3 separate regions of the Homo sapiens genome follow, and all the other regions are linked to region 2. The links come from fine-mapping of genetic effects on gene expression. A gene starts in region 2. Each other region holds a variant in brackets. All regions are shown on one strand. Distances are from middle to middle.

Evidence for each region. PIP is the estimated chance that this variant, and not a neighbour inherited with it, causes the effect. A credible set is the group of variants that fine-mapping cannot tell apart.
Region 1: its variant is the best candidate, but not a certain one, in a credible set for the expression of TRIM14 in whole blood (INTERVAL, PIP 0.86).
Region 3: its variant is the best candidate, but not a certain one, in a credible set for the expression of TRIM14 in whole blood (INTERVAL, PIP 0.52).

The regions. Positions count from the first base shown.
Region 1 is chr9:98,091,300-98,101,780 of GRCh38, forward strand. It overlaps TRIM14 (tripartite motif containing 14), which reads right to left. Exons shown (of 6, transcript NM_014788.4): 3 at 8,632-8,865; 4 at 3,568-3,730; 5 at 610-702. Among named protein-coding and RNA genes, the nearest start is that of TRIM14, 23 kb to the right of the region's middle. RefSeq lists an enhancer at 10,347-10,396. The variant C/T (reference allele first, on the strand shown) is at 5,028.
Region 2 is chr9:98,111,954-98,122,434 of GRCh38, forward strand. TRIM14 (tripartite motif containing 14) reads right to left here and starts at 7,269. Exons shown (of 6, transcript NM_014788.4): 1 at 7,029-7,269. The coding sequence starts at 7,235. CORO2A (coronin 2A) reads right to left here. Exons shown (of 12, transcript NM_052820.4): 12 at 9,022-10,481. RefSeq lists an enhancer at 6,743-6,792 and a silencer at 7,103-7,202.
Region 3 is chr9:98,009,927-98,020,407 of GRCh38, forward strand. ANP32B (acidic nuclear phosphoprotein 32 family member B) reads left to right here. Exons shown (of 7, transcript NM_006401.3): 5 at 1,345-1,463; 6 at 2,495-2,546; 7 at 5,438-6,017. The coding sequence ends at 5,505. Among named protein-coding and RNA genes, the nearest start is that of ANP32B, 32 kb to the left of the region's middle. RefSeq lists an enhancer at 883-952. The variant A/T (reference allele first, on the strand shown) is at 6,291.

The DNA.
Region 1 (10,481 bases), 21 kb before region 2:
ATAAAAAATTAGCTGGGCATGGTGGCACACACTGATAGTCCCAGCTATGAGGGAGGCTGAGGTGGGAAAATCATTTGTGCCCAAGAGGTCGAGGCTGCAGTGAGCCATGACTGCACCACTGCACTCCAGAGCAAGACTCGGTCACACACACACACACACATAGTGATAATATTAGCTGGGCACAGTGGCTCACTGTATAAATCCCAAATATATATATGTTCATAATATATCAGTAAATGAAAACAGATGACAAAACAGTATGTATAGTATGACACCACGTTTGTAACATAAAAAGATATATTAAATATATCATTATATGCATATTAGATGTGCTAAAAAAGCTAAAAGGACAAATAATAATAGCAGTTATTCACAGAAGAGGGATTATGAGTAACTTTTTTCTTTCATTTTCTAATTTTTCTACAATGAACATGTATTGTTTTATTGCCTTTAATAATAAACATTTTTTAAAAAACAAGTTCTTAAAATAAATAAATAAATAAATTCTAATGAGAAAAAAAGAGGGACCTCCATTTCCATGATCCTCCTCCACCCAACATCCCACCATCTCCACCGTCTCCACCCTATCCCCACTCCCGGGGGTCTTACATTTCAGCAATAGCGATCGCTCTGGTGAGGGGCTGGTTTTCAACAAGGTACCTGGCTTGGTGCTGGAAGGGTCTGAGAGCTGGCAGTTTATGCCTGTAAGGAATTGTTGAGAAATGAGCGCCCGGAGCTTATGCAAGCAGACAAATAAGACGTGCTAAAAATACCACACAACTGGAGATTCGCATAATCTCGCCCAAGAGCCAGGCAGATTTAAGGGATTTATGTGAATTCACAGGGACAGGAAAACCCCAGGATGACAAGGCTGGTGTGGGAGAGTCCTAAATAGGAGGAGGAGCTGAGGCGCGAACAACTACTGGATCCAACACTCAAGGATGGGCGGCGACTCAGGGAAGATGTGCAGATTCCAGGGTAAAGATGGAAAACAAGAAAGTAGAGCTGAGTCCTCAGGAAGGTCTGAGTGCTCAGAAAGAAAGAAGGAGGGGAGTCTATCCCAACAAGCGGGCACAGCAGGGGCACCCAGGGCCCTTGGCACTTGCTGTGCCCTCTGCCTGGACAGCCCCCCCACACCCTTCCCCCCTTGCCCAGGTTGCCTCCTTCCCAGCTATTGGGGCCGCAGCTCACTCAGCACCTCCGCAGAAGTGCCTTCCGCCCCCATCACTCCCAGCACTCATCACAGGGGCCTGTAGAGATCTGTGGGAAGCCCACCTGCAGGCTGTTTAAATCAAGTTTTGCCTAAAGCTCCTCCTTACATCTTTTAAGTTCGGCCTACATATTTTTCTGTACGTCATGAACAATAACAAGTGGAGGTGTAAACAGACCGTAGCCTGCACTTGTGCCAATCACCAAGTTTTGGCCAATCAGATGTAGCCAACTGTTCAAATTGTGTTCAAATTAGGCGAACGCCGAGCTGTAACCAATCCAGCTGCTTCTGTACCTCACTTCTGTTTTCTGTACGTCGCTTTCCTTTTTCTGTCCCTAAATCTTCTTCCACCACGTGGCTGTGCTGGAGTCTCTGAGTGCACTGTGGCTCAGAGGGCTGCCGGATTCATGAATCGTTCATTGCTCATTTAAACTCCTTTAAATTTAATTTGGCTGAAGTTGTTCTTTCATCAAGGCAAAAGCCTCTCCCCTCTCCCCAGAACTCTAGAATCATAGGTCCTACTGCCGAGGCGATACCACCACATGGGAAGTCCAACTTCTCAAATCTAACAGGTTCACTTCATTCCCTCCAGTCCTAAATACTCTTTCTCACTTCAGAAAATGACAGTTTCCTTCTGCGAGTTGCCCACGTCCAAATCCTTGGATTCTGATCTCTTTCCTCTCTCCCCTGTGACCCTACGTCCACTCCTGTTGTCCCCATTGCTGCTCCTTCGATATGGCCAGCTCACTCCCATCGCGCCTCAGGACCTCCACCCTTGCTTTTCCCTCTGTCTAGAATACCTCCCCCAGACGTAACAGCAGCAGCAATCATAATCGCCAAGACATACGTGGTGCTTAATATGCCTGAGCGCTATATGTGTAAGAGCTCATTTAATCCTCACAGCAGCCCAGGAGAGGCGACTGCATTATGGTCTCCACTTTACAGATGCAGAAACAGAGGCATGGAAAAGGGAGGAGCCGTGTCTAAGATGGCAGGGTTCAGCAGGGTTCCAAGTGGTAGACCTCGGATAGGAACCCAGGAGGCCTAGCTCCAGAGGCCGTGCCTATGACCACTGTGCTCTCTGGCCCTTCAGACCCACAGAACCTGCAGAATGAATGCTTCCTTTGGGCCACCTTGAGTGTCCCCTTCTCAGAGGCCATCCCAACTGCTTATATAAAACAGCTCCTCCTCCTTGTCACTTTCCTGTCTTCCATCCTGCCCTGGTTTATTATTATTATTATTATTGTTATTTTTGAGACAGAGTCTTGCTCTGTCACCCAGGTTGAAGTACAGTGGCATGATCTCAACTCACTGCAACCTCCACCTCCCGGGTTCAAGCAATTCTCCTGCCTCAGCTTCCCGAGTAGCTGGGATTACAGGTGCATGCCACCATGCCTGGCTAATTTTTGTATTTGTAGTAGAGATGGGGTTTCACCATGTTGGCCAGGCTGGTCTCAAACTCCTGACCTCATCATCCACCCACCTCGGCCTCCCAAAGTGCTGGGATTACAGGCGTGAGCCACCACGCCCGGCCTTTATTATTCTTTATAGCAGTATAGCAGTTCCTGTCACCTGACATGTTTGTGTACGGTCTGTCTTCCCCTACGAAGACTGTGAGCACCAAAAGAGGAGAAGGAGCTTTGTTTTGTGCCCTGCTATGCCTGGCATATAAGAGGGGCTTGATAAATGTTCTGAATGAATCATGATAGCAGAGGTGAATGAATGAATGAATGCATAAATGAATCAAAGAACAGATATTTTTGAGTACATGTTTTGTGCCAGGCCCTGGGGGGACCTCAGAGTTGGACCTAAAGCTGGTTTCTGCCCTTCACGTGCTTACAAGGGGCAAGGAGGGGGGTCCATGTATCCACTTCATGAGCACCCTCTAGCAGGACATGGGCAGGCCCTGGAGCGGGAAGGGAGAGGGGAGATGGCTAAAGGAGAGAGTGAGTCAGGGCTGGGCTGGCAGGAAAGGGCTTCCCAGGTGGGCGCAGCTGTGCCAGTCTGCCTCGAAGGGGTGCCAGGCCTTGGCCCCAGCCAGAGGAAGAGAAGGAGGAAGAGTTGGTCATTCCAGCTGGGAGCCCAGAGCAAGGCTGAGATGTGGCAGGCTCCCAGGAGCAATCTGAGGGGCAGAAGCAGGGCAGTGTGACTGGAGAAGGGCAGGTCTCAGTCTCAGGAAGGGTTGGAGGTGAAGTGGTGAGGGTGGGTTGGGCACCAGGCCCAGGAGCCCCTGACCGCCCAGCCAAGGGCCTCAGTGTGGGAGAGACAGGATGTAGGGAGATGATCTTTGCATTCGTCTCTGGGCTAAAGGACACTAGGGGAGTTAAGGACACAAAGTTGGTCACTCGGCGACTTACTTTCCTTAAGGCGAATGTCCAATGGCGTCTGTAATGTACTCTCCACGGCTTCCACGAGGCCCTTAAAGAAGCTCTTGACGGGCTCAAAGGAGAGGGGCACGGGATGGCACAGCTCCCCGAGGCTCATCTGCTGCTGCATCTCCTGCTCGGTGGCCGTGTATGCCTGTGTGGGCACACGGGGGTGAGGGTGGCTCTGGGAGATGCAGGCAGCATCCCAGCCTCCTGTGCTGCACCCAGGAACAAACCCACACCAGCATGCCCAGGCTCCACGTTGGCCTGGCACCTATGGTCAGCCCAGGCCATGCCTGCAGGAGCAGAGCCCTGGAGAGACCATACGGCATCCCTGAGGTGGGAGCCATGCGGAGGTGCGGTTTTTCAGTGCTGGCACTGGGGATTCCTCCCTCTCCATCCTTCCTCCTTTCCTTCCTTCCTTACGTGTTCATTGAAACCTACTCTGTGCCAGCTATGCATGCAGAAGGCAGGGTCAGGCTGACACGGGGCCCTTCCCAGAGAGGCTTCAGCCTCACACACACTGCGCCACGGGTCTGCCTTGGGTACAAAAAGGGTGAGAGGTCAGTCTCCCTGGGGAAGGAGCACCTGGAGCTTATTCAAAGGTGGAGCAGGAAACCATGTTCTAAGAAGGACGCCAAAGGCCAGCAAGGTTCAGCTGCAGTGCTGACTGAGGGGGTGTGGCCACCGCAGGGGACATGTGTCCTGTTTTGCACCTGGACAGCCCCTCTTCAATACTTTCCTGTGGTATGTGGCTTCACTAAGGAGAAGCTAGAAAACCCCCTCTCCCAGCTCCCTTTGCACCTGTGCTGCAGGAGTGTGACCAGACGCCTCCAAGCCAAAGCGTGGATTTGGAAATGACGGTGAAGGTAGTGATGGTGGCATGTGGCACTGAGGGACAGCAGTGGTGGGGGCTCTGGTCAGTGGTGTGAGTGGTGATGTCTTGCCCAGCAGGGGTGCCGTGGGGCCTATACTGGCACCAACCCCTGCTGGAGTCTGGACTTCATTCCTGCTGCCCATCTTCCATCCCGACTCTCTGGCCCTCCTGGAGATCCTATGGGCTATCTCATACTCTTCCATAAACTCCTTTCTTGCTTAAAACAGTTCCAGTGGATTCTCATGTTTGCAGGTAAGAACCATGGCTGCATTTTCTGAAGCTCTGTCCTGGCCAGGAGTTGGAAGGAAGATGACTGCCTCAGGTGATCAGGCTTGGCTGGCAGTGGCAGTGCTGCCCACCCGAGAAGGGGTGGACAGATGAGGGCCTCAGGAGGGAGGGAGGGTGGCCTAGCACTTGGCTGTTGGGCAGGGGCAGATCCCACCTGGCAGCATGCTGTACATTGGGAGGGGGCTGTGAGATGGCCTGCAAGCCCCATTCAGCCTAGGAGGCCAGGAGTCTATAGAGTCCAACCTCATTTTGGTGGGGAACCAGGCCTAAGGTCACACCCAGAGCG[C/T]TGGAATGGAGCTGGCCAGGGGAGACCAAGCACTAGCAGGAAGTCCAGGGTGGGCAGGGAGCAGCTCCGGGGAGGCGAGAGGGGGCTCAGAGGGCAGATGAGTAGGGTAGGATGAGGGGTCGATAGAGGACACATGGCACCACCTGGTAACCCCAAACTCCAGCAGCTAGCACCAGACCTGACACACAGGTTCTCAAAACATATGTATGATGGAATAAATCAATGCATGAAACCGAGCACAGCCACTTTTTTGCCTTTGCAGACTCAGAGAACAGAAATCCCAGCCCTTCATCTCTCAGGCCAGAAACCCAGGCATCATCTGGGGATTCCTCCTACCCATTCTCCAATTCCAATCTCCATTCCTGTGGCATCTCTTGACCTGCCTGTTTCTCCCCATCCCCACTGCCCCTGTCTTGGTCCAGGCCACCATCATCTCTCTCCTGGACATTGTGGCCTCCTCCCAAGTTCTCTTCCAGCCTCCCATCCTGGCCTCCTCTGTCCATCTTCCACTCTATCTCTAAAGTGACTTTTCTAAAGCACTAATCTGACCATGTGAATGCTTTCATCCCTCAGTTCAAAACACTCCCCTGGGCTGGGTGCAGTGGCTCACACCTCCCAGCTCTTTGGGAGGCCAAGGTGGGCAGATCACTTGAGGTCAAGAGTTTGAGACCAGCCTGGCCAACATGGTGAAACACTGTCTCTACTAAAAATACAAAAATTAGCTGGGCATGGTGGCACGTGCTTGTCGTCTCAGCTCTTCCAGGGGCTGAGGCAGGAGAATCCCTTGAACCTGGGAGGCAAAGGTTGCAGTAAGCTGAGATTGAGCCACTGCATTCTAGCCTGGGCAATAGAGTGAGACCCTGTCTCAAAAACAAACAAACAAACATTCCTGTCTCCTATCTCATTACAGGACAAAGTCTGAACTCCATGGCACATAAGGCCTTCATGAACTAACTATGGCCTATGGATCCAGCTGTGTCTCTCAATCCCCCCACCCTTATACCCTCACCTCTCCTCAAGTCAGGCTGCACCCCAGCTGGTTCCCCAGCCTGTCAAGCTCTCACATGTACACAGTTCCTGTCTGTCCTCTCTGCGTCCTCTCTATATACAGTGTGCTCCTACTCATTGTCCAGCACCCAACCCTACCATCACCTCTTCCTAGAAGTCTTCCCAGACTGCATCCTTCTCCCAGCCAGAGAGTGTCAGACATTTCTTGGACATAATTTTGCTAGCTTCATATTTACAAAATTGTTTAAGCTGTATTGTAAATAACTGTTTCTGAGCAAGTCCCCCACCCAACTGTGAGCTCCTAATGTCCAGCAAGTGACCTGGCTCAGTACATATTGATGAATAAACGAATGAACACATAGAAGGTGGGAACGGTGAATGATTAAAATCATTAGCTGTGGCCCAAGAGAATTTGAAAAAAAAAGATGACAAAGCCCTGAAACCGTTTTCTGATGTGAGAATAGCATGCTTCTCCATGGAAGGATTCCTTTGTATTCCATAGCCTTAAAAACGACCATTATTTAAAAAGAGACAATTACATGTAACACTTTGTGCATCTTGCCTCTCTTAAAGCACAACACCCATTATGCCTAGGAAAACACTTCATCCAGAATTTGGCTCAAACAGCTGACAATGAGACACAGGCTGAACCGACTGAGGCCACATAAAGACACAAGAGTGGAAATCCCCAGCTGGAGACTGGCTTGGCGGGTTTTGTGTTGACTGGCTTATTTGTCTGTCTTATTTTCCAGCCAGAGCCCATACTAATCTGTGGTTAGAGTTGGTGCCACTTTTAGTTGTACCCTGCCTTGTCCCACAGCCTTTAAAGTGTCTTGTGAAGGTCCTCTAATAAGGCAAGATTTTTCTTTATAGCGAGAAAAATGAAGCTAAGAGAAAATTAGACACAAAGTGTTTGCCATGAAGCCTTAGTCTGGTTAGTCAAAGCAGATTTGGCTCTGAACTTCCCAAGGCAAAGAAGGAAACAGGAGGAGCTCTATTAGTGGAAAAGCAATTCTAGTGCAGAAGTGACTGCACAGGGATATTGACACCAGACAACAGTTTCTTCCACGGTTCCCTAAAGACAGGAACACCATCGGCCGGGTGCGGTGGCTCACGCCTGTAATCCCAGCACTTTGAGGGGCCGAGGGGGGCGGATCACGAGGTCAGGAGATGGAGACCATCCTGGCTAACATGGTGAAACCCCATCTCTACTAAAAAATACAAAAAATTAGCTGGGCGTGGTGGGGGGCGCCTGTAGTCCCAGCTACTCGGGAGGCTGAGGCAGGAGAATGGTGGGAGGTGGAGCTTGCTGTAAGCCGAGATCACACCACTGCACTCCAGCCTGGGCGACAGAGCAAGACTCCGTCTCAAAAAAAAAGAAAAAAGTAGACAGGAACACCATCCTCAACAACATGCTTTCTCTAAATGTAGCAATGACTATCCCTGGGGCTAGTTCTTTTCTTTTTTTTGAGACAGAGTCTCACTCTGTTACCCGGCCTGGAGTGCAGTGGCATGATCTCGTTACTCACTGCAATCTTTGCCTCCCCGATTCAAGTGATTCTCCCACCTCAGCCTCACAGGTGCACGCCATCACGCCTGGCTGATATTTGTATTTTTAGTAGAGAGGTGGTTTTGCCATGTTGGTCAGGCTGGTCTCAAACTTCTGGCCTCAAGTGATCTGCCACAGGGGCTATTTCTTAGACTCTTCCTCAACAAAGCCCAGTGGCCAAGGAGTACCATTGAGCCAGCTGTGACTCAGCCTTTGAAATGTGCTCAGTAGCTGCAAGGACACCTGCCTTTTCAGGTGGGGTGTCTCAATTTAAGACTATAAAGGCAGGCTGATTGCGGTGGCTCACACCTATAATCCCAGCACTTTGGGAGGCTGAGGTGGGCGGATCACCTGAGGTCAGGAGTTCAAGACCAGCCTGACCAACGTGGAGAAACCCTGTCTCTACTAAAAATACAAAATTAGCCACGCATGGTGGCACATGCCTGTAATCCCAGCTACTCAGGAGGCTGAGCCAGGAGAACTGCTTGAACCCAGGAGGCAGAGGTTGTGGTGAGCTGAGATCGCACCACTGTACTCCGGCCTGGGCAACAAGAGAGAAACTCCATCTCAAAAAAAAAAAAAAAAAAAAAAGACTGTACAGTCAGAGGGCCAGGCAGGGTCCCTTGTGGGTTTAGAGTCAGACAGACCTAGACAGACAGCCAGACCTGATACCAGCTCTGCTACCTACCTGCTGTGTGAGACCAGGTGAGTCACTTCACTGAGCCTCAATTTCTTGTTTATAAAATGGGGTGAGCCCACTTTGCAGAGTTCTGGTGAATATTAGTGCTAAACTACACAGTGCTCAGGACACAGGGGCCTTTGAAATTGGTGGCTGTTAATATTATTTAATTAGCCCAAGAGGTGTATTATCTTCCTAACAATGTATATTCTCTTGACCACCTGTGTGGGGGCAAGACAGTCTACATGGTGACAAGACAATAGTCCATGTACTTGCTTAGTGTGTCAATACTGTGCTCAATGCCACAATACTTGAGATGAAGTGTGGGTGGCAGGTGGCAGCAGTAAGAGCAGTGACCCCAGCATTACCTGAAGCCTCTGGACAGGATCGGGCTCCTGGCTGATACTCCAGACCCTGTTGGAGAGATCATTCATGATGTCAAGTTGCTCTCTGCAAGAGTCAGCTTGTTCCCTGTACACCTGGAGGGTAAGCTGCGTGTTTTTATCAATGAATTTCTTGGCCAGCGCTTCCTCTTCGTCAAGTAGTAATCTGAGTTCAGTGAATTTCCCCTTCAGCCAGGTTTTACTTGACTCTGCATTAGCCTAAAAACAGAAAAACCAGTTGCAGATGACATGTCTGCCAACCAGGAAATCCAGAATAATCAACATGAAAAAAATCATAACGTCTGAAATGTGAGTTCAGTAAAGTGGCCAGTCAGACACAAGATCAACTTATAAAAACCAAAGCTTTCCTAAGCACCAGCCCATCACCGATCGTAAAATGCACGGAGAAATAAAGATCCTTTTGAAAATGGGAGAAAAAATAGCAAAATATGTGGAAATATACCTAATACAAAACCATATTCGTGACTGGGAGGGTTGATTACTATAAAGTCACTATTTGTCTCTAAATTAGTCTATAAATTTGATGAAATTCTAATCAAAATCTTAACATGCTGATTAAAAATTATTAAATCATTAGGAGAGAGAATAAGCATAAGAAAAGCCAAAATTGCTTTAAAAAAATCAATAAAGAGAAAACTGATAAGAGGTTATCTGCCTTATCTGCCTTATCTGATAACAAAACAATAAATCTACAGGATCTAAAACCATGTGGCTCAAGCATAGATAAGAGGTCAAAAGTACAAAATAAAGAGCTTTTAAAAGAACTCAAATTATATATGGAAATGTATGTATGTGTATGTGTGGTGTAACAGTGGCATTTTAGAACAAATTTTTGTATTTTTTGTACTAAAAATATAAAAGTAAAAATAATTAAAATAATATGAGATTTTCCACAATGAAAGGTTAAGGAAAACAAACAAAAGAGAAGGTCCAGTTAAACTAAAACACTGTACATAAAGCCCAAAGAATAAATCAATTAGATGAAATACAAAACAATTTTTATTTATTTATTTATTTATTTTTATTTTTTGAGAAGGAGTTTCACTCTTGTCCAGGCTGAGTGCAGTGGTGCGATCTTGGCTCACAGCAACCACTGCCTCCCAGGTTCAAGCGATTCTCCTGCCTCAGCCTCCTGAGTAGCTGGGATTACAAGCACGCACCACCACACATAGGTAATTTTGTATTTTTAGTAGAGACGGAGTTTCACCATGTTGGTCAGGCTGGTCTTGAACTTCTGACCTCAGGTGATCCACCTGCCTCAGCCTCCCAAAATGCTGAGATTACAGGCATGAGACACCATGCCCAGCCCAGAAAATAGTTTTTGATCATTAGATTGGAAGACTTTTAAGAGACTGAAATACAGTCTGTAAGGGTATGTGAAGTAGGGCATTTATATAAACTGTGGGTGGTAGGGTCTATTGGTACTTCGCTTTTAGAGGACAATACGACAATAGCTATCAATTTTTTTTTTTTTTTCAGACGAAGTTTTGCTCTTGTCGCCTAGGCTGGAGTGCAATGGCAAGATCTCGGCTCACTGCAACCTCCGCTTCCCGGGTACAAGCGATTCTCCTGCCTCAGCCGTGTAGCTGGGACTGCAGGTGGCCATCACCATGCCTGGCTAATTTTTGTATTTTTAGCAGAGACAGGGAGTCACTGTTGGCCAGGCTGGGTCTTGAACTCCTGACCTCAGGTGATCTGCCTGCCTTGGTCCCCCAAAGTGCTGGATTACAGGCATGAGCCACTGCACCTGGCCTCAAAGTTTTAAATACATTTATTCTTTCATGCAGCAATTCCTCTTACTTTACTTATATCCT
Region 2 (10,481 bases):
AAAATTGTTTTCAGTAACTTAATATCATGTTATGTTAAATGAAGTAATAGGTCATTATAAAACGTCTGAATCATTTATATGGTATAGAAAAGCTAAATATATTTCGATCTGTTAACAAAAAAAAATTGAGGAGCCATCTTTCTAGAAATTATGAAATTATTTTCATCTACAAATGCTGGTAGAAAACAGCTAAAAATTACTTACTTCCTAGGTTTTTCACTGGAAATTTGGGTTACTAAGAGTGAAAATTGTAGTTAACATATGTGATTAAAACTACTTGATATAAAAGAAACAGTTCTATTTACAGAGTGTATAAAGTCAGATGTGTTTTTGGTAAAGACTGTTGAAAGAGAGTAATTTTTCTTTTGCATGAGAGAGAACTTTGTGTAGTCAAAATGATAATGGGAAAAGGGAAGTAAATTTTTGTCCTAAGGTAGAATGCCAAAATAAAAAGGAAGTATAGGACAAAACTGAAGATTTAAGCAAATTCTAGAAGGTCTGTGGAAGATTAATCTCACAAAAGACATTTTGTATGTGATCAAATTGGTTAAAATGAGAAGGAAATGGCAGGGTGTGGTGGCTCCTGCCTGTAATCCCAGAACTTTGGGAGGCCGAGGCAGGCAGATCACGAAGTCAGGAGTTTGAGACCAGCCTGACCAACATGGAGAAACCCCGTCTCTACTAAAAATACAAAAATTAGCCAGGTGTGGTGGTGCACGCCTGTAATCACAGCTACTCAGGAGGCTGAGGCAGGAGATCACTTGAATCTGGGAGGTGGAGGTTGCAGTGAGCAGAGATTGCGCCATTGCACTCCAGCCTGAGTGACAGAGCAAGACTCAATCTCAAAAAAAAAAAAAAAAAAAAAATCAGAAGGAAATGGCCAGGCGCGGTGGTTCATGGCTGTAATCCCACCACTTTAGGAGGCCGAGACAGGTGGATCACCTGAGGTCAGGAATTTGAGACCAGCCTGGCTAACATGGTGAAACCCCGTCTCTACTAAAAATATAAAAATTAACTGGGCATGGTGTTGTGCACCTGTAGTCCTAGCTACTCGGGAGGCTAAGGCAGGAAAATTGCTTGTACCTGGGAGGTGGAGGTTGCAGTGAGGCAGTTCATGCCACTGCACTCCAGCCTGGGCAACAAGAGCGAAACTCCATCTCAAAAAAAAAAAAAAAAAAAAAAAAGAAGGAATTTTTTATAAGTTTTTCTAAAACTTAAGTATTAATATCAAAAGCACACTCATGTAAGGCCAGAGTCTGGGCTCCTGTGTTGGAACAACCAGGTTTTATCAGAGCATTGATCTGCTCTTTAATAGAAAATGGTGAGAGATTATCGATTATCTTATCTTGTGTAGTCAAAGCTGACTGAAATTGGATGATAGATAATATACTAACACCTAAGTAATTTTTTTCTTTTTTTGAGACAGGGTCTCACTTTGTCACCCAAGATGAAGTTCAGTGGTGCAATCTTGGCTCACTGCAGCCTTGACCTCCCAGGCTCAAGCAATCCTCCTGCCTCAGCCCCCCAAGTAGCTGGGACTATAGGCACACACCACCACACGCAGCTAATTTTTGTATCTTTTGTAGAGACAGGGTTTCACCATGTTGCTCAGGCTGGTTTTGAACTCCTGAGCTCAAGTGATCTGCCTGCCTTGGCCTCCCAAAGGGCTAGGATTACAGGCATGAGCCACTGTGCCTGGCCTAAAAGTAAAACTTGTTTTTCTCCTTTGAATAAAAATGTAATGTAGAATTAATAAGAGACGGTAAAAGATGTATTTACTTTTGCATAAATGGCAAAGAAAAGGTAACTGGGGAGAGTTTGTCCCATGCTGTCTTTATTAGGTCTCTTGATTGAGAACTGAATCTCCTCTATCAGAGTGGTTTTTGCTTTTTGAAATCTTTGAATAATCATTTTGGCTAAAGTAATTACCATTATTTTGTAGTGACCTGTGATTCTATTTTGATCATGTGTTTTAAACCTTTCTTATTTCTATATCAAGTGTTTTAAACCTTTAATATTTGAGATACTTCCCAAAATTAAATTAAGTCTTTTTGACCCAAGCTAACTTGGGCATAACCAGGACCCCTGGAAGTCCAAAAGAGACACATTAGGCTTATTTGGGATGTCAAAGTCATATGGGAAATATTGTCAAATAAGAAATGATGTTTAACTTTCTTTGAGTTATATTTATAAAAGCGTATTATTAATGTGTTCCAAAATTGTATGAGATTCCTAAAAGTCTGATATGTCTTGGTATATGTTATCAGTATATCATTATCATAATTATTATGATAAACTGGTGTGTGCCACACAAATAACCACATATCCTAGTCAATTTCATCTTTGACCGTGGCTATTCTAAGCCTTTTATCATCCACAGACAATTTGTTTTTTTTTTGAGACAGAGTCTCATTCTGTCGCCCAGGCTGGAGTGCAGTGGCGTAATCTCGGCTCACTGCAAGCTCCACCTCCCGGGTTCATGCCATTCTCCTGCCTCAGCCTCCCAAGTAGCTGGGACTACAGGTGCCCGCCACCACGCCTGGCTAATTTTTTTGTATTTTTAGTAGAGACAGGGTTTCACCATGGTCTCGATCTCCTGACCTCGTGATCGGCCCGCCTCAGCCTCCCAAAGTGCTGGGATTACAGGCGTGAGCCACCGCACCCAGCCGACAATTTTTATTTTACTTTGATTCTTTTAAAAAAAGTCGTTTATAATCAGCTACAAAATTTGCTTCATCTTTAAGGAAATTTTTGGAAAAAAACCCTGACAAGTACTCTTGAATACAGGTTTCTGGTAACTTCAGAGATCTTACCATTGGATTAAGCAAAAGCTTCCAGAACTCTAATAAAAACCTGAGGCATTCATGAAGACTGCTAACCCAACATCAAGCAGAGCAAGAATTATTTACATGGGACTAAACTGATAGAGGATAAAAGTGATTTTTATGATTTTTAAAATTTGAAACATTGCTGATTCTTTTTATATTGTTTTTCAGTCAAGAAAATTTTTTCTTTTGTCACAGCAACTGGATAAAAGATACTTTTGTGAGCAAAATTGAAACATTTGTCTTTCTCTCTACCTGATTTCACCAAAATTTGCAAACTATTTGTGTTTACTTTTTTTATTTTCATTTTTAAATTAATTTTTTTTTTTTAGACAGAGTCTTGCTCTGTCACCCAGGCTGGAGTGCAGTGGCATGATCTCGGCTCACTGCAACCTCTGCCTCCTAGGTTCAAGCGATTTTCCTGCCTCAGCCTCCTGAGTAGCTGGGACTACAGGTACATGCCACCACGCTTGGCTAATTTTTCTTTCTGAGGTGGAGTCTTTCTCTGTTGCCCAGGCTGGAGTGCAGTGGCACAATCTTGGCTCACTGCAACCTCTGCCTCGTGGGGTTCAAGCAGTTCTCCTGCCTCAGCCTCCCGAGTAGCTGGGATTACAGGTGCCCACCACCATGCCCAGCTAATTTTTGCATTCTTAGTAGAGATAGGTTTCACCATGTTGGTCATACTGGTCTCGAACTTCTGACCTCGTGATCCACCCACTTTGGCCTCCCAAAGTGCTAGGATTACAGGCGTGAGCCACTGAGCCCAGCACAATTTTTGTATTTTTAGTAAAGATGGGGTTTCACCATGTTGGCCAGGCTGATCTCCAACTCCTGACCTCAACTGATCCGCCCACCACAGCCTCCCAAAGTGCTGGGTTTACAGGCGTGAGCCACCGCACCTGGCTATTTGTGAGTATTCTTATTTTATGACAATATAGTTATTTGCATAAGTTCAATAAGAGTATGTTTTCTTTCATAACAGACCACATTGGAGACACTGGTAATTTTACCAAGGCTTTGACTGAAATGATATATCTTCATATATGATCAGACTGCTTTCAGGAACTGAAGTCAAGTTTACAGAGCCCATAAGAAGACCCTTGGGGGCCAGGCTTGGTGGCTCAGGTCTGTAATCCCAGCACTTTGGGAGGCTGAGGTAGGTGGATCACTTGAGTCCAGGAGTTTGAAACCAGCCTGGGCAACATAGTGAGACCCCGCCTCTATTAAAAAATGTTAACAAGAATAAAATAAAATACAATAAAAGGGGGCCCAGCACTTTGGGACACTGAGGTGGGCAGTTCACTTGAGGTCGGAGTTTTCAAGACCACCCTGGCCAACATGGTGAAGCCACATCTCTACCAACAAATACAAAAATTAGCCAGGAGTGGTGGTGCACACCTGTAGTTCCAGCTACTCAGGAAGCTGAAGTGGGAGAATCACTTGAACCTGGGAGGTGGAGGCTGCAGTGAGCCAAAATTGCACCACCACACTCCAGCCTGGGCAACAGAGTGAGACCCTGTCTCAAAAAAAAAAAAAAAAAAAAATCCTTGGAAAGACTGGACTAGCTTGGTCCTTGTCTACACAGTTCCCTTACAAGGTTCCCGACCTTGTGGTAAGAAAAGAATGTCACTTTCCGACAGGTCTAGGAACCTCAAGATATTTTGGGACCTTGAGAAGAGAATAATTCACCCAATGTGTATGGGTATCACAGGCATAGTCTGATGGTGAATCCTTGGTTTGGCTTTTTAGCTGTAAGGCTTTTAAAAGTCAAATCCAGGCCAGGCGTGGTGTTTCACGCCTATAATCCCAGCACTTTGGAAGGCTGAGGCAAGAGGATCACTTGAGCCCAGGAATTCTAGACCAGCCTGGACAACATGGTGAAACCCCGTCTCTACAAAAAAAATACAAAAAAAAAATTAGCCAGGTGTGGTGGTGCATACCTATAGTCCCAGCTACTTGGGAGGCCAAGGTAGGAGGATTGCTTGACCCTGGGAGGTGGAGGTTGCAGTGAGCCACGATCATGCCATTGCACTCTAGTCTGGGTGACAGAGTGAGACCCTGTGTCTCAAAAAAAAAAAAAAAAAAGTCAAATCCAAAATTCCTTATGAAAGTTCCAATAATGCAAATTATCAGGCCAAGTGTAATATTAAAACTTACTTTGCAAGTAAATTTGTCCTATCAAGACTCATTTTTGGTAAAAACAGGGAACTAGAGAGAGAAAAATTATGTTTCAGAAGAAAATCTTAGCACACCTGTTATGCACACCTGTTATTCCTGTTATTAGATTCCAGCCCTGGCCATTGTTTTTTAGTTTTTATTTTCCTGCAATTTGGACTAAATCCTGAATTATTTCCTGGCTACAACAAGGAAGGTTGTAGAAAAAGTTTTAGAAGCCAATTCCTGGCTTTTAAAGAAGGCTTGGGATTTTCTTCGTGATGTTTTTAGTTGACTCCCCAGTGGAATAGGTTTGGTGTTGTTCTGCCATAGAGATTCTCTGTTTTATTTATTTATTTATTTATTTATTTATTTATTTATTTAAGACAAAGTCTCACTCTGTCATCCAGGCTGGAGTGCGGTGGCGTGATCTCGGCTCATTGCAACCTCCATCTCCCAGGTTCAAGCGATTCTCATGCCTCAGCCTCCTGAGTAGCTGGGATTACAGATGTGTACCACCACACCTGGCTGATTTTCATATTTTTTAATAGAGACGGGGTTTCCCCATGTTGGCCAGGCCTCAAACCCTTGGCCTCATGTGATCCTCCTGCCTCAGCCTCCCAAAGTGCTGGGATTACAGGCATGAGCCACTGTGCCCGACTGCTTATGTCATTTTAATGTAAATTCTTGGTAAACAATTTAGGAACTGCTTCTTCTTTTTTCCTTAAAAACTTATATGTAACTGCTGCTAATCAGAGTGGATAGTCACAGAAATTTGAATCTATGGTCCCAGTTGGCCATCCTCAAGCTTTAGGCTTGGATAAACTCTGTACTTAATCATATTTTCTGAATCTTATTACTTCAAGTTGACAGTAGGTAGTGGGTAGGGGGATGGACAAATGGATGGGTGAGACTCTTGAGCCAGATCTGTGGAAAGCAGCCTTGTTAATTCTGAATAACAGTTTTTCAAGGAGCCATTATTATAATTACAGCCATTTCATACGTTAAAAAAAGGAAGGGTCTGGTGGCAGGGACAGGTCTTGAGCCCACGACTCCACTGGATTGTCCCCCATGATCCCCTTTTCACCTTGGAGTTCCAAGGTTGTCACAGTGTGGTGGTCTGGAGTCATGCAGTACCGGAGAAAGGCTCACGATGGGGCTGAATTCATCACAGAAGACTTCTTGGAGACAAGTGGTAGGATCAACAGCTGTCAGACATGAGGGCCTACCTCACCCAGGCTTCATGAAACCCAGAGAGAGAGAAGGATTTGAGAGAAGCCACAGAAAAAGTCAGCTGGGAAGCTGGAGCAGGAGCCCAGAGCCCCTGGGGCACTGTTAGGATTATGCATGGGTAAGGGTTCCACGGTGACAATGGCCCTGTTGGGGGCATCTGGCTAATGGAGTCCTGGGTTCAAGGCCTGCCCCTGCCTCCAGAGCCTTCCTCTTGTGGCCTATAAAATGGCTGTAATAATAATGGCTCACCCAGGGCTGCTATGAGCAGGAATGGGAGTGTCTGTGTGGCCGGGGAGGGGAGAGGAGGTAGGTAGTGACAGCTGAGGCTGCTCCCAGGGCAGTCAGGCCGTCCTCAGCTCAAAGTTCACAGGCCCTTTCTGTGGACTGCAGATTAAGTAAACCTGAGATGTCTGTGTGGCTTTCTGAGCTACACAGGGCTGTTTATTAAGAGGGAGAGTTTGTACCTCTGTTAACTAAAAGGCAGACTGTCTTCCAGCCCAATGGCAGTGTGGCGGATCGGCCATGGTGGACACGGTCAAGGACATCTGGGTACCAGCCTGGGCTCCCAACCTCTCACTCCTAAACCCACCTTTTCTGAAGCTCAACTGATGGCTTTGGCTCGCCTTTGCCCTTCCTTGGGTCTCAGGCTCCCGCTCTGAACTTTCGGTCGACCGCTTAGACGCCCTCTGGGGCACCTTTGGTTTCCAGGTTGTAACCCGCCACTGGCCACGGCCAGGCACGCCCCCTCCTCGGCCGTTATGCCTGGGCTGGCTCCCCCAACTCCCGCGCGGCGAACCCCGTCCCCATCGTCCCCACCTGCACGTGCACCGCTGCCTCCAGCGCCAGGCCCACAGGGTGGCCACGGTGCGCGCCCAGCACCGGGCAAAGCGCGCACACGCAGCGGCGGCAGCGGCGACAGAAGAGCTCAGCCACGCGGTCGCCATGCTCCGGGCAGCGCCAGCCGCATCCCTCGACAAGCTCCGACCTCCCAGGGGTCCGGCTCCCGGTCGCCGCGCCCGCCATTCATCTCCACCTCCTCCGGCTCCCCGGGACACAGGGCGGGGCTCCCAAGGGAAACCGAAACCTCGGCCGTGGGCGGGGCGGCTCCAGGCCGGCCGGCCGACCCCTAGGAGGATGACAGCCCGCCGGGAGCAGCGTCGGGCCTCGGAGCATCCTCCGACCAGCAGGGTGCTCCCTCTGCCCGCCCAGGCCGGGAGGTGGTCCCACCAGAAATGGGAAGCTCCTAATGAGCCAGCTAGGAGAGGGTGGGCTTCCTGCTTAATGACGCTGTTCCAGTAACGCCCAGAAAACTGCAGCCCTGATGATGGGACCAAAGTTGGCTGTGACCTTCCGGGGGTGCTCCTCTCACTTTCCCTTGATCCTCTCTTGCCCTTTTCCCCGGAAAGATAATCATTCCCACAACTGTAAGATACCTTCATCAACCTCAAATAAGGACACAGAGATTCTCCAATTGAGTTTATTTCGGACTGAGCAGAAGGATTGCAATTCGGGAATAAATGTGCCATGGCACCCAAGGGGTGGGGACGCGGAGTACTCAGGGAGGCAAAGGAAAGCAGAGGCTTTTAAAGGCAAAACGAGGAGGATTGCATATACTGTTTTTTTTGTTTGTTTGTTTGTTTTTGTTTTTTTTTTTTTTTTTTTTTTTTGGAGACGGAGTCTCGGTCTGTCGCCCAGGCTGGAGTGCAGTGGCGCCATCTCTGCTCACTGCAAGCTCCGCCTCCCGGGTTCACGCCATTCTCCTGCTTCAGCCTCCCGAGTAGCTGGAACTACAGGCGCCCGCCACCACGCCCGGCTAATTTTTTGTATTTTTAGTAGAAAAGGGGTTTCACTGTTTTAGCCAGGATGGTCTCGATCTCCTGACCCCGTGATCTGCCCGCCTCGGCCTCCCAAAGTGCTGGGATTACAGGCGTGATCCACCGCGCCCGGCCAGATCGTTTTAAAATAATAATACTTGGTTACAAGAATTAATACAGGTGGCTTCAGTCCAAAAGTTGAACAGGCAGTTGCTGGGCAGATGTCCTCATATCATGGCTTTTGTGCAAGGTTGTGGTTCTTTGTGCAAGGTTGCAGTTTGGTGGAATCTTTTGCAATAATAGTTCCTGTTACCAGGCAAATCGTTGATGAGGGCCCCCCACTTCATGGCCTCCCAGCACCATTTAGTTTGTTTGAGACAGGATCTCGCTCTGTTGCCCAGGCTGGAGTGCAATAGTGCGATCATAGCTCACTGCAGCCTCTAACTCCTGGGCTCAAGTGATCTTCCCACCTCATCTCTGGAGTAGCTGGGACTACAGGAGCACCATTTAGTTTGGTTTTGATGTAAGTGACTCTGTTTTGGTACTGACAACTTTCACACACACACCACCACCCCAAATTCCAGTTGCCCCCCCAGGCTCAAGTCTAGACTTCCACTTATAAAGCCCTCAGCTCTTTCTTAAGATCCTTGGTCTCCGCCCTGCCTATGCTCCACCCTGTGCTTTTTCAAGACTGGGGGACGTGCAGTTTACCCTGCTTGGAACATTCTTCTTCCCAAATGCCCTTTGCCCTGAGTATTCCAACTTACTCTGCAGGTTTCTACCTTACTATCTTTTCCTCCAGGAAGCCTTCCCTCCTTCTCCTTCCAGAACAGCCTATGCTTTCCCTATCCTGGCCCTCCCCATTCCCGCAGCCATGACTGAAAACTGGAGAGGGCAAAGACTGTCTGTTCTGCCTGTTTTCCAGCTTGGTGTCTGACTCCAAGAGTAGATAGTTAATTGGTATTTGTGGAACAAATCAAGAAAAGGAAAGCTCCTTGTAGTAAAATGGCCAGATGTTTATTATTTTGTTACATTATTTCCATTGCATATTCCACATCTATTTATTTTCACTTTTATTTATTATCATTATTTTTCACAAAGGTACAAGGAATTTCAGAAACAACATTAAAACAATCATTCAAACTGTTTCAGGCACGGTTTCAATTAAAAGCATAGATTTGATTTCTGACTTCCTGTTTCCTTCTATGATACAATCTCAAGTTTTGTTTCAGGAAGCACAATTATTGTAGCGTTAAGGTGGATACCTGCCAAAGCTCATCTCCTAGTGCTGTCCTCATTCTCAGAAAGTTCCTGAGTCAACAGAAAGGGGACGCCCAGGGTATGGAATAAGGAGATGAGAGCATGCTCTGCCAACTGGCTGGGACCTGAATGTGCTAGGCAAGTTCCACTACATCAGCTCAAGAACATAAACAAAAATGTAATTTAAAAAACAGATGGTTTAAAAAAATATCTGATAAAAATTACCTATCCCTCTCCCTTGCTGTGAAATAATTTAAATAATTTATTCTAGATGTAAAAATAATAATACAAAAAAGTTTGTTCAAAGACACCTGTGTCCTGTTTGTTAAGTGTGCAGTCTGGGTCCCTTGGGGTGGAGGGAGCTGGCCAAGGAATGGCATTGTGCAGAGGCATACCGGGAAGCTCTCTGGATGCAACCCCACCTCTACCGCTTGGCAGTCAATGACCTTGGCATGATGTTTCTTCACTTCTCTGAGGCTAGGTCTTTGATTCTGAACATGGGGACTGTAATGCCTGCCTGACCTGTGTTAGAACAGCATGTGTCACTGAGTGGAGGTGGGAGGAATTTGTAAACTGTGAAGTGCTAGCCACACAGGTGGGAAAGGTAAGCCTATCCTGTAGAGCTCTGCTGCCCTGACAATGCCTGGGATTTGGCCTTCTTTTCTGGAGCACACTAAGGCAATCTTGGCTAGTGCATCAGACGGGAGTGAGCCCCAGTGACTGAGTAAATGGAGAATAAGACAAGGAACACGAGCATCCGGCCTGTGCAGACATACAAGCAGAATAAACCACAGCTGGGTAAGGGGCAAACAGGGGCACTGAACCCCCATCGTGCTGCAGCTGCGGTTCCCAGAGATGTTGAGGGAGGGCTTGGGGCAACACTTCTGGACTTTTAAGGAGCCACCAGGCAGGACTTAAGAGATCTGGGTTGAGTCCCAGCTCCTGTCTGGAGCTTGCTGTCCTCTTCATCTTTATTGCAAATAGGTACACATGCAGTCTTCCATCTTCACTGTACTGCAGATCACCTGTGGAGCTTATATGACCATACAGGCCCTACTCTGGAGATTCAGCTTCAGTTGGTCTGGAATGTGGCATGGGCATCTGTATTTCCTGCACGCTCCCAAGGGAATTCTAATGTACACAGCTTGGGTTGAAACCTACCAGACTAGGTGGCCTCCTGCAGTCCCCACCTCAG
Region 3 (10,481 bases), 100 kb before region 2:
ATAAGGTGGTAAAATGGACAGAGAATAGGACATCTCACTTATTTCCAAATGTTATGTCCCTTTGTCCCTTCTACAGTTTTTCCATTTTTCCTAAAAACCATTTGTGCTTGTTGTCTATTTAAGTTCACCTCAAACAGGAAGAACAGCCACATGTGCAAGAGCCAGTAAAGGACATTCCTTGGAAGGTGGGGGGCAGTTCCTGAGAGCAAAGATGGGTCAGCCAACAAATACTTGAGCATTTCCTATGTGCCAGGCACTGCGGAAAATAGTGGTTTAAAAAAAAAAGGAACAAAAAAACAAGGTTCCTACCCTCTTGGACCTTACAGAGAAATGGTGTTTTTTTTTTTTTGTTTTTTTTTTTTAAATCATAAATAGGCTAGGTATGGTGGCTCACACTTGTAATCCCAACACTTGGGGAGGGTGAGGCAGGATGATTGCTGGAATCCAGGAGTTCAAGACCAGCCTGGGCAACATAGACAAACCCTATCTGTACAGAAAAAATTGTTTTAAATTAAGAATTCTAAATAATAATTGCAAGTAAGCAAAGTGTGTTGTAATGGAGAAGCACCACATACTCATGGTGAGAGCCTATGACCTGGCATTGGGAGGTCTGGTGAGTAAGACTGCCTAAGGAAGTGATGTTGACTGAGACTCCAAGGTGGAGTCAGAGTTAGCCAAGCAAAGAGGATGGAAAGAGCATGCAGAGACCAGGAGGCAGGTGAGAGCATGGTGTGCTCTAGGACCCAGGAGAAGCAAGAACTGCCGCACTAGAGGTCCGAACAACCAGCTAGAGATGCAGGTGCCTCTCAGCCTCCTGTCCCCTGAGTCACAGGGTTATTATGGGTGTTTCTCAGGTTCCTGATTTGAGCAGCTGACTGTGACTCTGGTAATGATACCCAAGAGAAGGTACATGATTTTTTTTTTTTTAACTTTTTACTGTCAAAAATTTCAGACAGTGACAAAGGGTAAAAATAATAGCAAAATGAACCCCCATGTTCTTATCACTCAGCTTCAGCAATTATTGGTCATAGCTGATCTTATTTTATTCCTGCATACCCTTACCTTCTTCCCCACTCCATATAATTTTGAAGCAAATCTTAGCCATTGTATCATTTCATCAGCGAGAATTATAGTGTTTGTCTTATCTACCAGGACTTCTAGCTCTCTGATTTTATGGGACTCTATCGGACAAAGGGACTGAGCTGTAGCACATAGTAGAAAGAAAGTGACTGCAGTTCGTGGCCTTACAGCATTTGTTCTGTGAGCCAGCCCACAGATCCTCAACACTTTGTCCCCTGTGGAGCGTCGAGGATATTTAATGAATCCCTTTTGGACTATTTTTAGAAGGAGAAGATGAGGAAGACGAGGACGATGAGGATGGTGAAGAAGAGGAGTTTGATGAAGAAGATGATGAAGATGAAGATGTAGAAGGGGATGAGGACGACGATGAAGTCAGTGAGGAGGTCAGTGCAGCTGTTTTCTACCCTGCTTCCTATTTGTAATTACAACAAAAGTGGGGGTTTCAAAAAGATGACAAAAGAAAAGAAAAAACACCTTTTGAAGAAATTAGTATACCTGTGAATACATTTACAATATGAATCTGGTTAATTTAGTGTTTGTCTGGCTTTAAATAACTACTAAATAGAATGCCTACTGAACTCAAACTAGTACGGTTCCTGGCTGTGCAAGGTAAGTTCTGGCCCTCTGGGGGAAGGAATGAATTGAGTATTCAGTGTGGTGAGAAAACTGGACATGTTGAGAATTGATGGTATGTCTGTTCCTTCATTGAATTGTAGGGAAGTTTATGTTTACCAAGTCTAAACTTTTTCTTGTATATTCAGTGTAATTCAGTAAATATATATCTGCTATGTTAAAGAGTTGGGAGTACAAAATGAAATGAGATTGTGGTCCTGCCCTGAAAGAGCACAGTCTGGTTTATGAAATACCCAATAATAGAGGATCCCTGAGGAAATAAATGCTATACGAGGGCAGGAGAAAACAGTGTCTTGACTTTGACCCTCAAAGAGGTTTGGGAAACAGGCAGACAACATTAGTTGTTAACAAAACGCATCCTCTTTTGTAGTATAAAAATAAGGCTTGGGGTTTGTGTGATGTCATTAGGTGTATGATTGACATTAAAGTTCTGAAAGAAGCTTTGTATATGAATGGGATATAGAAATTTTTGTCTAAATCTGTTTTGAAATTTGAGATTTTAAGATGTTTTCTTGAATTATCCAGAGTTATATACTAATTAAACATCTAGCAAATGAACTGCTTGCTTCTAAAAAAAATTTTTCTTAGAAAAATTATAAAGCTCGTTAAGGAAAATCAGTGGGTCTTGGTACATCAAAGTAGATAAAAATAACATTACAGTTTCCTGCTTGATTGATATTGTTGCATTTATTTGTACTTCTTAGTTTGGCAGAATTTGTACTATATGCACTTTTCAATTTGGCAGAATTAATTTAATGTTATGCTGTTTGCTATTCTTTAGGAAGAAGAATTTGGACTTGATGAAGAAGATGAAGATGAGGATGAGGATGAAGGTGGGCCTAATGCATGCATTTTGATCATTCTCAGTTAAAAATTAGAGAAAAACATCCATTATTTAGAATATGATACCACTGAGAAGAAAATAAAATACTCTTGGCTCTGGTGGTTTACACATTCACATTCTCGTTTCTATCGTCCCATCAGTGTGTCTGTGCTGGTGCAGGCTCCCTGCTGCTACAGCAGTTATTCCTGTCTCATGGCAAGGGTCCTGTTGGTCTTCAGTCCTCATGGGGTTTTTTTCGGGGTGGTGGTGGTGGTGGTGGTGTTTTGAGACGGAATCTCGCTCTGTTGCCCAGGCTGGAGTGCAGTGGCACGATCTCGGCTCACTGCAAGTTCCGCCTCCTAGGTTCAAGCCATTCTCCTGCCTCAGCCTCCAGAGTAGCTGGGGCTACAGGCGCCTGCCACCACGCCCAGCTAATTGTTTGCATTTTTAGTAGAGACGGGGTTTCACCGTGTTAGCCAGGATGGTCTCAATCTCCTGACCTCGTGGTCCACCCGCCTCAGCCTCCCAAAGTGCCGGGATTACAGGCGTGAGCCACCACACCCGGCCTGTTGTTTTCTTGAGATGGAGTCTTGCTCTGTCGCCCAGTCTGGAGTTCACTGGTGCAATCTAAGCTCACTGCAGCCTCCACCTCCCAGGTTCAAGGGATTCTCTGCCTCAGCCTCCTCAGTAGCTGGGATTACAGGCATGCACCACCACACTTGGCTAATTTTTGTATTTTTAGTAGAGACAGGGTTTTGCCATGTTGGCCAGCCTGGTCTTGAATTCCTGGCTGAATTCAAGTGATCCACCCACCTCGGCCTCCCAAATTACTCGGATTACAGGTGTGAGCCACCATGCCTAGCCTGTTCCCCATGTTTTAAATGTGTTTTTAGGACCAGTCATTTGGTTTACTGTCAAGTGTGAGTTTCTGTGTTTGGAGTTCTTTCATTTTTTAAAAAAAGGCTTTAATAATTGAACCATCATTTTCAGGATATATAAATAGATGTAGCAGTTTCCCAGTTTTGTCAGTGTTAGTCCTTTCCCCACTACAACCAAGACAAATGAAATAGCTGTTACTTATTTAATACTGTTGAAAGTATGCCAGCCTGGACAACATAGACCCTGTCTGTACAGAAAATTAAAAAGTTAGCTGGGACCGGGTGTGGTGACTCACGCCTGTTATCTCAGCACTTTAGGAGGCCGAGGCAGGTGGATCACCTGAGGTCAGGAGTTCGAGAGCAGCCTGGCCAACATGGTAAAATCCTGTCTCTACTAAAAATTAAAAAATTAGTCAGGCGTGGTGGCACGCACTCAAACCCAGGAGGCAGAGATTCAGTGAGCTGAGGTCATGCCACTGCACTGCAGCCTGGACAACAGAGCAAGACTCTGTCTCAAAAAAAAAAAAAAGTTAGCTGCACATGGTGGTGCACACCTATAGTCCCAGCTACTTGGGAAGCTGAGGTGGGAGGACTGCTTGAAGTTGCAGTGAGGCTATGATAGTGCCACCGCACTCCAGCCTGAGTGACAGAGGGAGACCTTGTCTCAAATAAAAAGTCTCATGGTTGTGTCTCAGAAAATCAGGTGTTCACTGTGCTGTTGGCTGATGTTTTCTCAGCATCCACTTTGTCAAGCTCTCAATTACATTTACACTAGATATTACCCTGGTTAGGACCTGGTCACTGCCTTTAAGAACCTGTATGATTGGGAGGCCGAGGCGGGTGGATCATGAGGTCAGGAGATCGAGACCATCCTGGCTAACACGGTGAAACCCCGTCTCTACTAAAAATACAAAAAAATTAGCCGGGTGTGGTGGCAGGCGCCTGTAGTCCCAGCTACTCGGGAGGCTGAGTCAGGAGAACGGCATGAACCCGGGAGGCGGAGCTTGCAGTGAGCCGAGATCAAGCCACTGCACTCCAGCCTGGGCGACGGAGCCAGAGTCTGTCTCAAAAAAAAAAACAACCTGTATGAAATATGATTTAACATATAGTTAATTTCATTAAAATAACCATGGATTTTATTAGTTGAAAAAATTGGTCTATATGTAAGTCTCTGTGTCTCGACTACATAATACTCTTAAGAATTTCCTTTTTAGTTAATATTAGTTTGCTACAATTTGAGTCTTAATGATGTTCCATACTATGTTTTGTGTGTTATTTAATTCTCAGAATAACCTTTTAAAGTCAGTACCATTGTCCCCATTTTACAGATGAAAAAGGCTTAAAGAGGTTAAGCTTGTCTGAGATCACTTGAAAGTAAGCATGTCTTGAAGACGTGCTAGATAGCACGAGGGGTTTTGTTTTGTTTTTTTGGAGACAGTTTCGCTCTTATCACCCAGGCTGGAGTCCAGTGGCACAATCTCAGCTCACTGCAACCTCCGCCTTCCGGATTCAAGCAATTCTCATGCCTCATCATCCAGAGTAGCTGGGATTACAGGTACATGCCACCATGCCTGGCTCATTTTTGTATTTTTAGTAGAGACGGAGTTTCACCATGTTGGCCAGGGTGGTCTGGAACTCCTGACCTCAGGTGATCTGCCTGCCTTGGCCTCCCAAAGTGCTGGGATTATAGGCATGAGCCAGTGGGCCTGACCAGCTCAGGTTAATAATAAGCACTTTAATAATTGCTAGATTTGTAAAAAGAAACATTTGGAAGACAACACCTTAAAATCGAGGAAACTGGATTAACTTTTCCTGGGTGAGTTGAGGTGCTGCTGTGCATTTTGCTTTTCTTGGTTCTGTGGTCACCACTTATACTTGCTATTAGTCACCTATATTAATCTGATCAAGTTTACATTGTTTTATCTCCTAACTGTCAAAAACTTTGTTGTTGTTGCCTCCATTGGCAATAATCTAAGCAAAATGCCTTTCCACTGTCCTAAAGTCAATTTTTGTTACTGTACAGAGGAGGAAGAAGGTGGGAAAGGTGAAAAGAGGAAGAGAGAAACAGATGATGAAGGAGAAGATGATTAAGACCCCAGATGACCTGCAGAAACAGAACTGTTCAGTATTGGTTGGACTGCTCATGGATTTTGTAGCTGTTTAAAAAAAAAAAAAAGGTAGCTGTGATACAAACCCCAGGACACCCACCCACCCAAAGAGCCAAAGAATAGTTCCTGTGACATTCCGCCTTCCTTCCATGTAGTCCCTCTTGGTAATCTACCACCAAGCTTGTGGACTTCACCCCAACAAAATTGTAAGCGTTGTTAGGTTTTTGTGTAAGATTCTTGCTGTAGCGTGGATAGCTGTGATTGGTGAGTCAACCGTCTGTGGCTACCAGTTACACTGAGATTGTAACAGCATTTTTACTTTCTGTACAACAAAAAAGCTTTGTAAATAAAATCTTAACATTTTGGGTCTGTTTTTTCATGCTTTGCTTTTTAATTATTATTATTATTTTTTTTACATTAGGACATTTTATGTGACAACTGCCAAAAAAGTATTTTTAAGAATTTAAGCGAAATAAACAGTTACTCTTTGGTAAAGCCTAGTTGTATGCTTACATTTTTAAATTATACTCTCATTGTAAGCTCATGTTAAAACACCAAAGAACTGGTTTATTTGGCATTTTTATATTAGTAGTTGTTGAGGGGAATTGCACAAGTGTGTAGGATCTTTGAGCATTTAGATCAAATCCTCATTGATAACTGGGAGTAAATGAAGCATACTTTAAAAAATAACGTTCAAAATGGAATACTCTGGGGCCCTGAAAACCAGTAAAATGTTAGGTTCAAGTATTATGTGAATTAAGGGAAAGA[A/T]GATAGTGTAAAGCAAAAGGCCTTCACCAGAATCCCAAGAGATCTGAATTCTAGTTCTGGCTCTGCCACTGATTTTCTGTGTGACCTTGTGTTGACTCTGGGTCACCACCCAGTCTGGAAAATTGAAGGGGTGTGACCAAATGGCTTCTGAAGTCACTTGTAGCACTGATGTTCTGTGACCCTTGCTGACAGGAAGGTCTGAAGAGAAAAATGGGCTTTCCACTAGTCTGAAGCATGTAGGGTTTGACTGATGGGTGAACACAGTATGGTTTGTTGCCAAGACAGGCGTGAAAAGGGGGAATGACATGTGAAAAGCCTCACCAAGCAGTGGGTAGGCACTGCCTGAGGTCAACTCAGGTTTTCCATAAGATGGAAATTTTCTCTATTCTTACAGATCTTAAAGGGATTTGAGAAAGGAGGATATTCTGTCTGTATTCAGTGATTAACCGTTTAGCGAAAATAGATGTATGACTGCATTATCAATACAGTTTTTTATAGTGGAAGATTTAAGGATTGTTTCAGTAAATTTTAGCTTATAGCTGCTGGAATGAGTGAGGTTTTTGATGCATGTAAATGCAATATGTAAAATTGGAATCTAATTTGAATTTATAACAAGTCACAGTCTCTATGGAGCCCCCAAATACTGTACTTTAAAATCAAAATCTCCCATAGACTTTAAAATGGAGTTTCTTTTTTGCAAAGAAAATCCAAGAAAATTTGATTTCTGATTTTACAGGTATTACACATCATTTTCCCCAACCATAAGGCCATTTTGGCAAACCTTCAATACATTGTAAAATGGTTTCTTCTGTAGCCTAAGTGTGTCCTTAAGGTTTTGCTTATTTGTCAAATATCAAACACAGTAACTTTGAGTGATTATTTTTCCCGGTTTGTTGTTGTTGTTGTTGTTTTTAGTTGTTTTTTAAAGTTTACAGAACTTCCCAGTATCTACCAAGCCTGTAGGATATGCCAGGCTTATTGGCTGGGCAAAAGGGAAGGGAATTGGGTTAAAAAGACAAGCCAGCCCTTGGTGCTCATAGTAACTAGTCAGGAAGAAAAGACATCAACACAAGTAATATTTACTAGGACCTAGGAGCAAGAGGTTTAGGTAAGTTTTAGTGTAGCTCAGAGGCTGGAGAGATGGCACCCAACCTGGAGGGAGGGAAGCTTCTTAGAAAAGAAAGTACTTCAGCTGCACATGCAAGTGTGAATAGCGTCTATAAATAGGAATAGAGAGAGAAGGGAGTATCTTGGTGAGCAGAGGTTAAAGGTAGGAAACTGCTGAGTACAGTTAGATACAAGTAGATTTGACAACACATGAATAGATGATAATACTGGACAAGTCATTTGGGCTCTTGTAGGGGGCCTTGAAGGTCAAAGCCTTTTTGTGCATTATAGTAAAATATTGATGTCACCTGTATGTGGCCAGTGAAGATGCCTTTGACATGGTCCTCAGAGAAGCAAGCTGTTTGGTGATGAGGTCACACAGCAGACTATTTTTGGAGTTGTCTCCCATCTGAAGGAGAACATTGAGAGGGTTTGCTTCCAGCTTCTGCAGTAAGTTTAGTTATAAAATGTCTGAGCTGGGTGGCAGCTATGATGGGCTAGATGACTGGTCCTGACTAGCTGCTCCGAGGTTGGTGGAGGTGTGTTCTACATACACACCTACATGTGTGATACATTGGTATGCCATCTTTTTGAAGCTATTTTCTTTTTTCTTTTTTTTTTTTTTTTGAGATGGGAGTCTTCGCTGTCGCCCAGGCTGACATGTAGTGGCACAATCTTGGCTCACTGCAACCTCCGCCTCCTGGGTTCAAGCAATTCTCCTGTCTCAGCCTCCCGAGTAGCTGGGACTACAGGCGCCCGCCACCACGCCTGGCTAATTTTTGTATTTTTAGTAGAGACGAGGTTTCAACATACTGGTCAGGCTGGTCTTGAACTCTCCTGACCTCAGGTGATCCACCCACCTTGGCCTCCCAAAGTGCCAGAATTACAGGTGTGAGCCACTGTGCCCGGTCCATGGCGCCCTGTTTTCAACCTCTGCTCTTACCTTTAGTTCACTCCTCTTTCAGGAGTCCAGCACCTGAAGAATGATAGTGGCCAGCGTGGAAATGCACAAACCACCTTGTGTAAGATACTGCACCCTACCCGCTCCTGTATCACCACCACCAGGACTCCTGGTACATACTCCAGGACAGATACAGGAGAGTTGAGTCGTCCTGTTCCTGGCATTCCTATCTGGGCTACACTACCTACCCCATCGCCAGAGAAAGGTGAGACAGAAGCACAAAGTGGTTGTACACTATGCTATGACCTTCCAGTTTTCTCCAGCTCTGTTGCATTGTGCTGCCATCAATTTTAATGAGCCTGATGATACCGCCGTGTTGACAGTTTGGAAAGGGAATCAAGTTACTAGTAGACTTAAGCTGCAGCCAGCCAAACAGTTGCTCTGCAGGAAAATCACCAAGATTGCAGTGAGTGTGGAAGTCCTCAGAGCCAATTAGGTCAGCTTAATAATCTCTGATCAAGTGGGTATTTTATAACTTGTCCCAGGGGTGTTGGGAGGGCATATGGAGAAAATACCCTTATTCTATTGCTTTTTGTTGTTGGAGACGGTCTGACTCTGTCACCCAAGCTGGAATACACTGGCACAATCATGGTTCACTGCATGCTCGACCTGGGCACAAACAATCCTCCCACCTCAGCTGAGTAACTGGGACTATAGGTGCGTGCCACCATGCCTGGCTAAATATTTTTGGTAGCGATGAGGTCTCACTATGTTGCACAGGCTGGTTTCAAACCCCTGGGCTCAAGTGATCCTCCTGACTTGAACTCCCAAAGTGCTGGGATTACAGGCATGAGCCACTGCACCTGGCCAGAGTTAACTCTATTTCTGATTAAGGGGACTTGACCCCTGGCCAGGAGGGGCCTGGGGTCTCTGTGTTTAAGACAGCACTCCCCAGCGCCAGCCCTGGCAGAGGAAGAGTGGAGGTATGGGGAGGGAGGCCTCAAACAGAATCTAGAGATCATATTCTAGCCCCAACCTGGCCACTGAATGGTATTTGCTCCCCTCTGTCACTTCCCCTCTGAGCCTCCAGTTCCTCAACTGAAACTCCGAGGCCCAAGCTAAGTGAGCCTGCAGGTTGTTTCAGCTGTACAAATCTGCATGTGGTTCACCGTGAGCCTAACCAGCAATAGGAATACTAATTGTATTTCATGCCGTTACTCCCAGTTACCCTCTGAAGGAGTAGGTAAGGGTTTGGGCTAGTAGAAAATGTCAGAGCTATGTTTAGGCTGATGGAATTGAAAAGGATAGACCAGTAGCATGGGGCCAGATGAGTGCTGCACTTTCAGTGAAGGAGGTGTCTTCCAGAAATTGCCACAGGTATATACATAAGTTGGCCAGACTAGTCAGTCATCTAGTAGCATTACAGATGCAGGTTAGTACATACATCTGCCATTGATGGCCATTTACTGAGAGGAATTTAGTCTTCAACTTCCCTGAAAAATAACCTATAATCCCCTTTTATGGATGTGGAAACTGAAGGATTTAGAGGTGAAGTGCCCTATCCAATGTCATGTAGCTAGTAATGATGACCAGGCTGGGATCCAAACCCAGCTCTGCCCAAACCCAAAGCTGCTGTATGTTGCCATATATCCCTCCCTAGGGCCCTTGCTCCTGGCTCAGTTCTGATGAGAAAGTCAGTGGACTTATTTCTCCCTTAGTCCAAAGCAGGGAGCAAAGTAGACACTAGCTAACAAGACTCATTGGTTCCAAAGGTTCAGGACAGGGCGTGAACAGAACTAGTTGTCAGAGTTGGAACCATAAAATGCTTAGGGACACAGGCAAACAGCGAGCACTGTAAATACAACTGGCTGGGCATGGTGTCTCACGCCTGTGATCCCAGCACTTTGGGAGGCTGAGGTGGGTGGATCACCTGAGATCAGGAGTTCGAAACCAGCCTGGCCAACAGGGTAAAACCCCGTGTCTACTAAAAATACAAAAAATTAGCCAGGCATGGTGGTGGGTGCCTGTAATCCCAGCTACTTGGGGGGCTGAGGCAGAAGAATCACTTGAACCCAGGAGACAGAGGTTGCAGTGAGCCAAGATTACATCACTGCACTCCAGCCTGGGCAGCAAAAGTTAATTCCATCTCAAAAAAAAAAAAAAAAATACTTACAACTACAACT